Regions from separate parts of the Homo sapiens genome. Here region 2 is linked to region 1. The links come from fine-mapping of genetic effects on gene expression. A gene starts in region 1. The other region holds a variant in brackets. All regions are shown on one strand. Distances are between the middles of the regions. Region 1 holds the start of KIF1B (kinesin family member 1B). Region 2 overlaps UBE4B (ubiquitination factor E4B).

Evidence for each region. PIP is the estimated chance that this variant, and not a neighbour inherited with it, causes the effect.
Region 2: its variant is fine-mapped to the expression of KIF1B in activated naive CD4 T cells (Schmiedel 2018, PIP 0.92).

The regions. Positions count from the first base shown.
Region 1 is chr1:10,207,479-10,212,850 of GRCh38, forward strand. It overlaps KIF1B (kinesin family member 1B), which reads left to right and starts at 3,092. Exons shown (of 49, transcript NM_001365951.3): 1 at 3,092-3,400. RefSeq lists silencers at 2,313-2,607, 2,694-2,773, 2,804-3,323 and an enhancer at 4,225-4,880.
Region 2 is chr1:10,167,804-10,173,175 of GRCh38, forward strand. It overlaps UBE4B (ubiquitination factor E4B), which reads left to right. Exons shown (of 28, transcript NM_001105562.3): 24 at 333-467; 25 at 3,335-3,526. Among named protein-coding and RNA genes, the nearest start is that of KIF1B, 40 kb to the right of the region's middle. RefSeq lists an enhancer at 2,741-2,790. The variant T/G (reference allele first, on the strand shown) is at 2,645.

The sequences.
Region 1 (5,372 bases):
GTCTCGTTATGTTGCCTAGGCTTGTCTCAAACTCCTAGGCTCAAGCGATCAGCCTACTCTGCCTCCCAAAGTACTGGGATTACAGGCGTGGGCCACAGCACCTGGCCGGGAAGACTTGATTTTTTAAAAAGATCCCATTAAAAATAGCAATAAAGGCCAGGCTCAGTGGCTCACACCTGTAGTCCCAGCACTTTGGGAGGCTGAGGTTGATGGATCACTGGAGTCCAGGAGCTGGATACCAGCCGTCTCTACAAAAAATAGAAAAATTAGCTGGGCGTGGTGGTGTGTGCCTATAGTGCCACCTACTCAGGAGGCTGAGGTGGGAGGATGGATTAAACCAGGGGGCAAGGGTTGAGGCTGTAGTAAGCTGTGATCACACCACTGCACTCCAGCCTGGGTGACAGAGTGAGACCCTGTCTAAAATAATAGTAATAATAAAGTCTTCCTATCAAAAAGGAACACTTCGGATTTTTGTGTATTGATTTTGTATCCAGAAACCTGATTGTGATTGTGATTGTGATGGGAGAGTGGCAGTGCACCACGTGACTAGGACTTCTGATGTTCTCGTATCCTTGCATTCCAGAGACAGCCCTACCAGATCATGGCTACATTCAATTTTCTAGTAATTTATTTATCATTTTAAAGAGATGCTTTTATACAGAATTTGTAATCTGAGAAACTGGCTGGGCAGTGTGACTTCATCTGTCAGAGAGGCAAAAGGCTTATGCAGAGTGGGCTGTTTGGCCTTGGATCCTGGAGCAGCCTTCTTTGCCTTTATTGACCCTTCTGTGCCTTCTGTGTGCCCTTTGGCTAGCTTCTTCTCCTGCCAATCACAATCACACCCTCTTCACTACGTTTTTGTTTTAAATTTTATTTTATTTTTTGTTGAGACAGAGTCTCACTCTATCTCCCAGGCTGGAGTTCAGTGGTAGGATCTCAGCTCACTGCAACTGCCGCCTCGTCCACCTCCCGGGTTCAAGTGATTCTCCTGCCTCAGGTTCCCAAGTAGCTGGTATTACAGGCGTGCCCACCACGCCTGGCTAATTTTTGTATTTTTTAGTAGAGATGGGGTTTTGCCATGTTGGTCAGGCTGGTCTCGAACTCCTGACCTCAAGTGATCCACCCGCCTCAGCCTCCCAAAGTGTTGGGATTACTGTCGTGAGCCACCGCGCCTGGTTCTTCACTACGTTTTAGATTCTTTTTAGATTGTGCTCCATTGAGAGCTCAAGCAATACAGCCACCCAGGTTTTCGTAACTCTCCATGGCGCTCACCACAGTATTTACGCAAGGAGGTCCACGCTATGATGAAGTGGTGTCTACTGTTGAATTGATGAGTTCCTCTTTATTAACCTACTATAGTTTCATTTTACTCTTAGCCGTCAGGAAGCTAAGAGCTGAGTTCTGTGCTCAGTGGCAACATATTTCCTTGACTATGGATTTTTAAAATATTGTTTTTCTGGCCGGGCGCGGTGGCTCATTCCTGTAATCCCAGCACTTTGAGAGGCTGAGACAGGTGGATCACCTGAGGTCAGGAGTTCAAGACCAACCTGACCAACATAGTGAAACACCGTCTCTACTAAAAATACAAAAATTAGCCGGGCGTGGTGGCAGGCACCTGTAATCCCAGCTACTCGGGAGGCTGAGGCAGGAGAATCGCTTGAACCTGGGAGGCGGAGGTTGCAGAGATTTGACATCGTGCCACTGAGCTCAGCCTGGGCGAGAGTAAAACTCTGTCTCAAAACAAAACAAAAAAATTTTTCTTTCTAGGCATGCCTCTCATTCAAACAGCTTTTAAAAAGTCTCTTGCTTGTTTCATTATTATGAATTTTACGCCTATTTTAAAGCTATACGGTTTCACTGCTGTATGCTTTAGTGTAAGCTATGTCAAATCCTTTTGCAGGTAGGTGGAGCTTAAATTCTATAAAATGAGACGTGATCAATAAAAGCGGATGAAGAGTCTGAGGACTTGAGTGGTGGTGGAGATTTTCCAGAATTATTAGTGTAGAAAATTAATTTCGATGTTTTAGTGCATATGCTTGTACATAATACCTTTTACTCACAATAATACTGTATTTAATTCAGGGGAAGACATGTGATTTTACTTTCAATGTCTGCTAGTAAATAAAAATAATTCACAACCTTATAAAGTAATAGTGCTCGGCCTGGGCCTGATAATTGAATATATTATCACTGAAGATTATATTTTGTTAAGTACTGAATTGAACAGTTTCTGAACAGTGAGATTTTTCTTTCCAGCTGAATCTAAATCTGATTTTAAAGAAATCACTGCTCGTGCTTTTGTGTCCTCCGGGTTTCTAACTTCCACTCTCCCTCCTTCAAGGGCATCTCCCAGAAGGGGGCTGGGCTCGTTAACTCAGGGACGGTGCAAAGCGTTTGTTCCTCTCCTCACAGCCCTTCCGCGGTCTCCCAAGGAGACAAGTGGAATGCCCACCAAGTCATGCTTTTCCATTACTCATTCCGCCTTCTCTCCCGAGGTGGCGCGTGGGAGGTGTTTTGCTCGGGTTCTGTAAGAATAGGCCAGGCAGCTTCCCGCGGGATGCGCTCATCCCCTCTCGGGGTTCCGCTCCCACCGCGCCGCGTTCGGCCGGTTCCGCCTGCGAGATGTTTTCCGACGGACAATGATTCCACTCTCGGCGCCTCCCATGTTGATCCCAGCTCCTCTGCGGGCGTCAGGACCCCTGGGCCCCGCCCCGCTCCACTCAGTCAATCTTTTGTCCCCGTATAAGGCGGATTATCGGGGTGGCTGGGGGCGGCTGATTCCGACGAATGCCCTTGGGGGTCACCCGGGAGGGAACTCCGGGCTCCGGCTTTGGCCAGCCCGCACCCCTGGTTGAGCCGGCCCGAGGGCCACCAGGGGGCGCTCGATGTTCCTGCAGCCCCCCGCAGCAGCCCCACTCCCCGGCTCACCCTACGATTGGCTGGCCGCCCCGAGCTCTGTGCTGTGATTGGTCACAGCCCGTGTCCGTCGCGGGCGCCGGGGCGGATACGAGGTGACGCGCAGAGGCCCAGCTCGGGGCGGTGTCCCGCGCCGGCGACTGCGGGCGGAGTTTCGCGAGGGCCGAAGCGGGGCAGTGTGACGGCAGCGGTCCTGGGAGGCGCCCGCGCGCGTCGGAGCAGCTCCCCGTCCTCCGCAGCCGTCACCGCCGGCCGTCGCCGCGCCCTGGCCTCCCGCACTCGCGCACTCCTGTCCGCCGCCCACCGCCCACCTCCCACCTCGATGCGGTGCCGGGCTGCTGCGTGATGGGGCTGCGGAGCGGCGCCCTGCGGCTCGCGGCGGCCGCTGCTCGCGCTGAGGTGCGTCGGTGCCCGGCCCCCCGCGCCCCCGCGCGCCGCGGCTCCTGTTGACCCGGTCCGCCCGTCGGTCTGCAGCGCGGCTGAGGTAAGGCGGCGGGGCTGGCCGCGGTTGGCGCCGCGGTCGCGGGGTTGGGGAGGGGGCCGCTTCCGCGGGGAGGAGCGGCCGGGCCGGGGTCCGGGCGGGGTCTGAGGGGAGGTAGCGCGGGACGGGCGCCGGGTGCGGGAGCCTCGCCCTCGGGGGAGGGGACCCCTCCCTAGGCCAGCAGCGAGTCCCGGGCCGGCGTCCAGCGGTCGGCTGGGGCCCCCGCAGTGCCCTGCACCGGCCCTCCGTTTCCCCCGCGCTGCCAGGCCCCGGCTGTGCCCAGCGCTCTCCAGACCCGCCGCTGCCTGGCCGTTCCCTGGGCTCCGCGCACGTTGCAGCCCGGGGGGCGGCTGTGCTTCGTTTGAAGCCATCGTTTCTCATTTTCCCTCTCCCCTTTCCTCCTTTGTGGTGGGCATCGGGCTTCGGCTGGGAATGTGGTTATGCCCTTTGCCAGATGGCGATAGGAAAGGTCATCGCTTGGCGCTGGGGGAGCCGAGGGCTCGAGGCCTGGAAAGAGGGGTGCGATAGGAAGGGAGGGGGCTTGTTGGATGCTGGCCAGGTGTGAGGAAGGCTGGTGTGGTCTCGGCATTCAGCCGACTGGGATTACTCGGGCAGCCATATTGGGAGGATGATCTGACAAATCCTTTAGGAGCCAAGTCCAGTTGTTGGAAGGCACCGAGTGACAGCCCTGGCAGCTTTCAGGGTGACTGGCCAGACCAGAAGCCAAGTTGTGGGGGTTGGGAGGCTGCTTGAGCAAGCTAGTCATTGTTCATGCAACACAAAACATTCCCGCCCCTAACGCCAGAATGGAGCTTCCAGATCCCTTTTTTTTTTTTTCCTTGATTGCTAAATGAGCTTCCAAGGTAAACTGCCTTCAAGATTCCATTCTTGTTGGGGTGAAATTCCGTGTTTCTCTATTCATCTTCTGCGTCCAGTGCGGGGGCTGTGAAAGGCCTGCTGATGCTTTACATGTGCATAGGCCGATCTGAGAATTGCTAAGGCCACTGTATCAGTATGGAGGCCTCGAGTAGCCGTAGAGCATTGGATGGATAGATTTTCAGAGTCGCTCGACTTGCAGAGAAGAAGTAAACCAGAGTATTCTGATAGTGGGCGAGGCTAGTGGCGGCATTTCTGAGGACGCAGGCTGTCATCTTTGTGGAATCTCGAGGTAGCTGAAATTAGATTGTCAACAGATCCCTTGCTCATATCTCTTACTGCTCTGAGCAGCTGTTCTGCCACCATTGAACATTCCGCTTTGTGTCATGATGTGCCTGTCTGAGCCTGATGAAAGTGTGCTGATGAGATTTGAATAACTCTTAAGAGGTGATATCATGGTGGATATTTTATTTAAAGGCTGGCATTTTGTCTCCTTAGTTTAGTCATAACAAAATCTAGTTCTTGTGTTCCTCTAAGAAGTGAGGTGGTGCTTTCTGATTAAGTTGATATGGTTGCTGGATTATAGAGCAAGTGTTGTTAATGTATTGTTTGAAGGTGGAATATGAGAATTACACATAGGTTGGTATTGTAAAGCAGGTCTGGAGATGATCAATAACTGGGTTCAGCATGAGTCTGTAGATCTGTTCTTTTCTATATCCTAGATGTGGACAGGACCTGGAGAGATGGCATGCCTGCTTTCTTCTTTGTGGCCTTTGCTTTCATTCAAGTTCAATTTGTTCATAAATACATTCTCATAACTTCTCAGGTTGAACTATGTAAAAAATTTTGGGATGGGTGTGGTGGCTCATGCCTTGTAATCCCAACACTTTGGGAGGCTGAGACAGGAGGATCCCTTGAGCTCAGGAGTTCGAGACCACCCTGGGCAACAGAGTGGGACTCTGTCTCTACAAAAATAAATGAATAAATAAATACCTGGGCATGGTGGCTCATGCCTGTATTCCCAGCTATTTGGGAGACTGAGGTGGGAGGATTGCTTGAGGCTAGCCTGGGCAACAGCAAGACCCTGGCTAAAAAAAAA
Region 2 (5,372 bases), 40 kb before region 1:
GGTGGTCTCGATCTCGACCTCGTGATTCGCCCACCTTGGCTTCGCAAAGTGCTGGGATTACACGCGTGAGCCACCACGCCCGGCAGATGGTGACTTCTTTTATCATTGAGGAAGCAGAGTTAAATAAGGCACCAACATCACCTGGCTGGAAGTCTCAAAGAGCTCCGATGCTGAAAGGATGAAACTTCAGTTATCTGGGACATGTGGCAGGCGGTTCTGTCATTCCCTAAGCATGTTGGGTTTATCACGCACTTTCCAGTTATGTGCTTGGCGCTTTGCTGAGCTGATGACCAGGACCGAGCCTTACTCAGCGTCTGTTCGATGTGTCCTAGGATCAGCAGCAGGCTCGTCAGTCTCAGCTTGCTCAGGATGAGCGTGTGTCCCGCTCTTACCTCGCCCTGGCCACCGAAACCGTGGACATGTTCCACATCCTCACGAAGCAGGTCCAGAAGCCCTTCCTCAGACCGGTGAGTAGAAACCCGGGGCTCTGTTTGGTGGTTTGGACTCCACATTCAGACTCTCTCACTTATAACTTTAGCAGTTGTTGAAGTTCTGGAAATTTTAGGATCACAGTCATCAATAAGTGAAATTCTGTGACTGATTTTGTTCCCAGTTATGCTAATTGATACCAGACTCTGTTGATGGACTGAAGAGCAGATGTCTGATGTCACCACATAGTCTACAGCCACTTCCAAATGCCTTACTGCACTTTGTGCTTAGACAGTACATTGGATTATTCATGTTGATGTCATGACATATTTTTACCATTATTGATTCCTATATTTTACTTATAGAAAAAGCATAAGGTGCCGGGTGCGGTGGCTCACGCCTGTAATCCCAGCACTTTGGGAGCCCAAGGCGGGCAGATCACGAGGTCAGGAGATGGAGACCATCCTGGCTAACACAGTGAAACCCCATCTCTACTAAAAGTACAAAAAATTAGCTGGGCGTGGTGGTGGGCACCTGTAGTCCCAGCTACTCAGGAGGCTGAGGCAGGAGAATGGCGTGAACCCGGGAGGCAGAGCTGGCAGTGAGCCGAGATGGTGCCACTGCACTCCAGCCTGGGCGACAGAGTGAGACTCCATCTCAAAAAAAAAAAAAAAAGAAGAAGAAAAAGCATAAGGTAACAGCTGTTGACAATGGAAGGATATTAAGTAGAATAATTGAGACCGTGTAAAATCTTTGGCTCTCTTAGCTGTACCTTTGTTACACTCAGGAAGCCAAAGGTTAATGGGAGCCGGCCATCACTAGGGTTTATGGTGGATTGCAAATAGTCAGAATGTTTGTTCTCAACTAGTAAGACCTGGTTCCTATTTCTAAAATTGAAACTGAGCAGCATCACTGAAGATTTCTGCCCTGCTTCAGCCACCCCCACCACAAAGTTGAAAAGTTTTATGGTGTGGCCAGGACAAGGGTAGTGAGGAAGGCAAGACGGGGACCTAAGATTCGGTAGCCATTTGCCTATGTGGAGACATGTTTACTTTACAATGGAATATGACGTTACTGCATATTTCCCCTGATTTTCTGTATTTGCTCTTACCTTCGTTATGTGACTCTCTGTTATGTGACTCCTGTCATCAGCAGAGGCACTATTGCCACTCCCTGGCCTGGGGACAACTCTTTTCCACTCTTTTAACTTTCCACCTCATGTCTCTTCATAAACAGATTTCAGTGCAAGAGCCATGGAACACGAAACAAAACAGCTCAGACACTGGCCTCCCTTAAAAGTTTGCAAAGTGCAAGGCCATGGAGCATGAAACAAAACAGCTCACTGGCCAGACACTGGCCTCCCTTCAAGGTTTGCAGAATTCTGTGAAGGCCAGATAGTAAATAGTTGATTAATTCCTTTGTAACAAGGTCAACACCCACCTATTTTGTACACTTGTTGGGAAGACTAAGCGAAAACACACATAGAAGTACCTGGCATAAGGCCAAGCACGGTGGCTCATGCCTGTAATCCCAGCACTTTGAGAGGCCAAGAAGGGTGGATCACCTGAGGTCAGGAGTTCCAGACCAGCCTGGCCAACATGGCGAAACCCCGTCTCTACTAAAAATACAAAAATTAGCCAGGCGTGGTAGTGCATGCCTGTAATCCCAGCTACTTGGGAAGCTGTGGCAGGAGAATCACTTGAACCCAAAAGGCAGAGGTCGCAGTGAGCCGAGATCACGCCACTCCAACCTGGGTAACAGAGCAAGACTCTTCTCAAAAATAAATAAATAAATTTATTTTAAGGCCTGCTCATAGACCTGAGCCATCTGTACACTGTAGCCCTGTTCTTTTGGCCCCAGCCTGTGCCTGTGCCTGCTGTGATGTTTTCATTTCCTTTGCTACACTATTTACTATCTGGCCTTTGCAGACAAAGTGTAAAGGCATTTCATTTTGCAAACCTTTAAGGTTTGCATTTTCACCTTCTTTACTGACTAGCTCAGATCTCTCCTACTTCAAACAGAATGACCAACTCTGTCCTGTTATGACTCTTTTATTTCACAGCTTCTCAACAGTGAAATACAGGAGTACTCTGTGCAAAAGCAAATTCTTGAAAAGCTAAGTATATGTTGAATTTGTATAAATCCAGTTATTACATTTCATGAAAACCTTGTGACTTAAAGGAATGCTTTCGTGACTCCCTTTTATGGCCAGTGT[T/G]TAATGCTCTCTAAGCCACATCTTCCTGTTTCAGGTTTGCTTAAAACCATGTATGCCCAACCGTAGTGGGTACTGAGTCACCTTGTGAGATTACAGCATAGATTATTACTATTTTCCAGGTGTTTCATTTAAGTTTACTCTGTCTCATTGACTAGATTTAAAACTATTCAAGGCATAACTTTTATCTTCTTTCCTTGCATTACTTTGTTATTTGTATCTGATAAGTACATAAGAATGACACAGACTGAACTGCCAGGGGCTTTTAACATTTATGGGGAAAAAAGTTTATGAAATACTGGCTGGAAGAGCTGACTCAAAACTTTTTTTGCTCAGATAATGGTAAGATTTGTATAATTTTCTCTCTTTTACTTGTTTCTCAATGAATTTGGAGTGATACTTTTTTTAATTAAAAGCATAAATGTAAAGAAAAGTTTGGCTTCTTTTGGTATTTATAAATAAATATTTCATCAGCCTGCAACATTCCATTAAGTATTAGAATTATCAGATCAGAAATGGGGAGTAAAGTTGAAATATAATGTTGTCTTTCTTCAGCTTATGATACACAGCACCTGTAAGGATTCTTTGAAGATTAATCCAACCAATTCCTGTTCCTCCACTGAAATGGGAGTTTTTGGTCCTTTTCACTTGTCTCAACAGCATGAATTGTCCTATTATCCTGTGATTTCCTAGGAGCTTGGACCCCGATTGGCTGCAATGCTGAACTTTAATCTTCAGCAACTTTGTGGCCCCAAGTGCCGTGACCTGAAAGTTGAAAACCCTGAGAAATACGGCTTTGAACCAAAGAAGCTGTTGGACCAACTGACGGATATTTACTTACAGCTGGACTGTGCTCGGTTCGCGAAAGCCATTGCTGACGACCAGGTCAGTGAGTTGAGTTGGTCTCTCTGTGAGTTTACTGGCAGATTTGGAGATAATAACCACAGTGGCCAGGGAACTCGTCTGGTGTAAATGAAGATGAGTGGGTTGTTTTCCTTTGAGTGTGAAGAGCAGATTTGGGCTGGGCGCGGTGGCTCAGGCCTGTAATCCCAACATTCTGGGAGGCCAAGGCAGGGGGATTGCTTGAGGCCAGACTGCAGTGAGCCGTGATTGCACCACCACACTCCAGAATGGGTGAGAGAGTGAGATCCTGTCTCAAAAACACGGTGGCTCACGCCTGTAATCCCAACACTTTGGGAGGTCGAGGCGGGCAGATCAAGAGGTCAGGAGTTTGAGACCAGCCTGGCTAACATGGTGAAACCCCATCTCTACTAAAGATACAAAAAATTACCTCAGTGTGGTGGTGCATGCCTGTAATCACAGCTACTCGGGAGGCTGAGGCAGGAGAATCGCTTGAACCCAGGAGGCAGAGGTTTCAGTGAGCTGAGATTGTGCCACTGCACTCCAGCCTGGGCAACAGGGTGAGACTCTGTCTCAAAATAAATAAATAAGTAAGTAAGTAAGTAAAAAACAAAAGTAAAGAGCAGGTTTGGCGCTCTGAGCCCTCTCCAGTTGAGTTCTTACCCCATCTTTTTAAGGGCCTTCTTGACAAATCCATTACATTTCTGAAAAGAGCCCGGTTTCTCAAGGGATCAGAATCTTCTTTCCTAGTCTCCTGCTAGAGTGCTGTTATTTTTGGGGTTGTCCAGATTAAAAATCTTGTGTGGTTTTCTTTACATTCTTCCCTCTCCTTTATTCCGTGGGTCTCCTGTGAGCAGATCTGTCTGTGTGTGCTTCATTTCCACAGCCACCGATTTAGGCTAAGCTGTCCCTGCGTGATCTTCTAGTCATCCCATAAAGGGCTGGCCCCCTCCATGGTCCGTTCTGCCTCATTTTCAACGTCCTCACAGCTAATGTTTATTAACTGTACACCTCATTTCACCCACTTTTCGTATCTCCACCCATTTAGTCCTCACAAAATCCTTTGAGGTAGGTTCTGTAAAGTCTTTGTTTTAAAGTGAGGAAAGAGGCACAGAGAGGTTAAATAGCTTGCTCGAGGTCACAGAGTTAGTGTGGGACAGAGGCATGATCCATGTCCAGGCAGCCTGGCCTTGAACCCATATCCTCAGTCTCTCTGCTGTCCACTTAAAATGCCCACAAAGAACCATGCTTGTCTCTGTGTCTCTGTCTTTGTTCACACTACTTATCCAAATACTATTCATGGCTCAAGTTAATCATCAGTAGGCATTCTAGAAGGTTCTTTACCCATATCTCATCCAAAGGAGTAATATTACAATAGAAGCATTGTAGGTACTTTTTTTTAATGACAGCTTTATTGAGCTATAACTCACATATGTAGGTGCTTTCTGATGTAGCAGGGGAAGTGGTCTTAACAAAGGATTTGCAGTGAAAAAATACATAGTCATGTGCTGTTTCTGTCGATGCTGGACCACAAAGACCATGTGGCCCCATCATATTATAATACCGTATTTTCACTGTACCTTTTCTGTGTTTAGAATACTCACCATTGTGTTACAACTGCCGACAGGATTCAGTACAGTCCCACACTGTACAGTTTTGTAGCCTAGGAGCAATAGGCTATACCATAGAGCCTCGACGTGGTGTAGGCCACGCCATCTAGGTTTGTGTAAGTAAATTCTATGATGTTTACACAGCAACGAAATTGCCTAACAAGACATTTCTCAGAGCGACACATGACTGTGTGTCTAAAGCAGTTTTATCATACAAAGTAGTGGCTCGTAAGAGGGTTAGGAAATTTTAGTTACTTGTA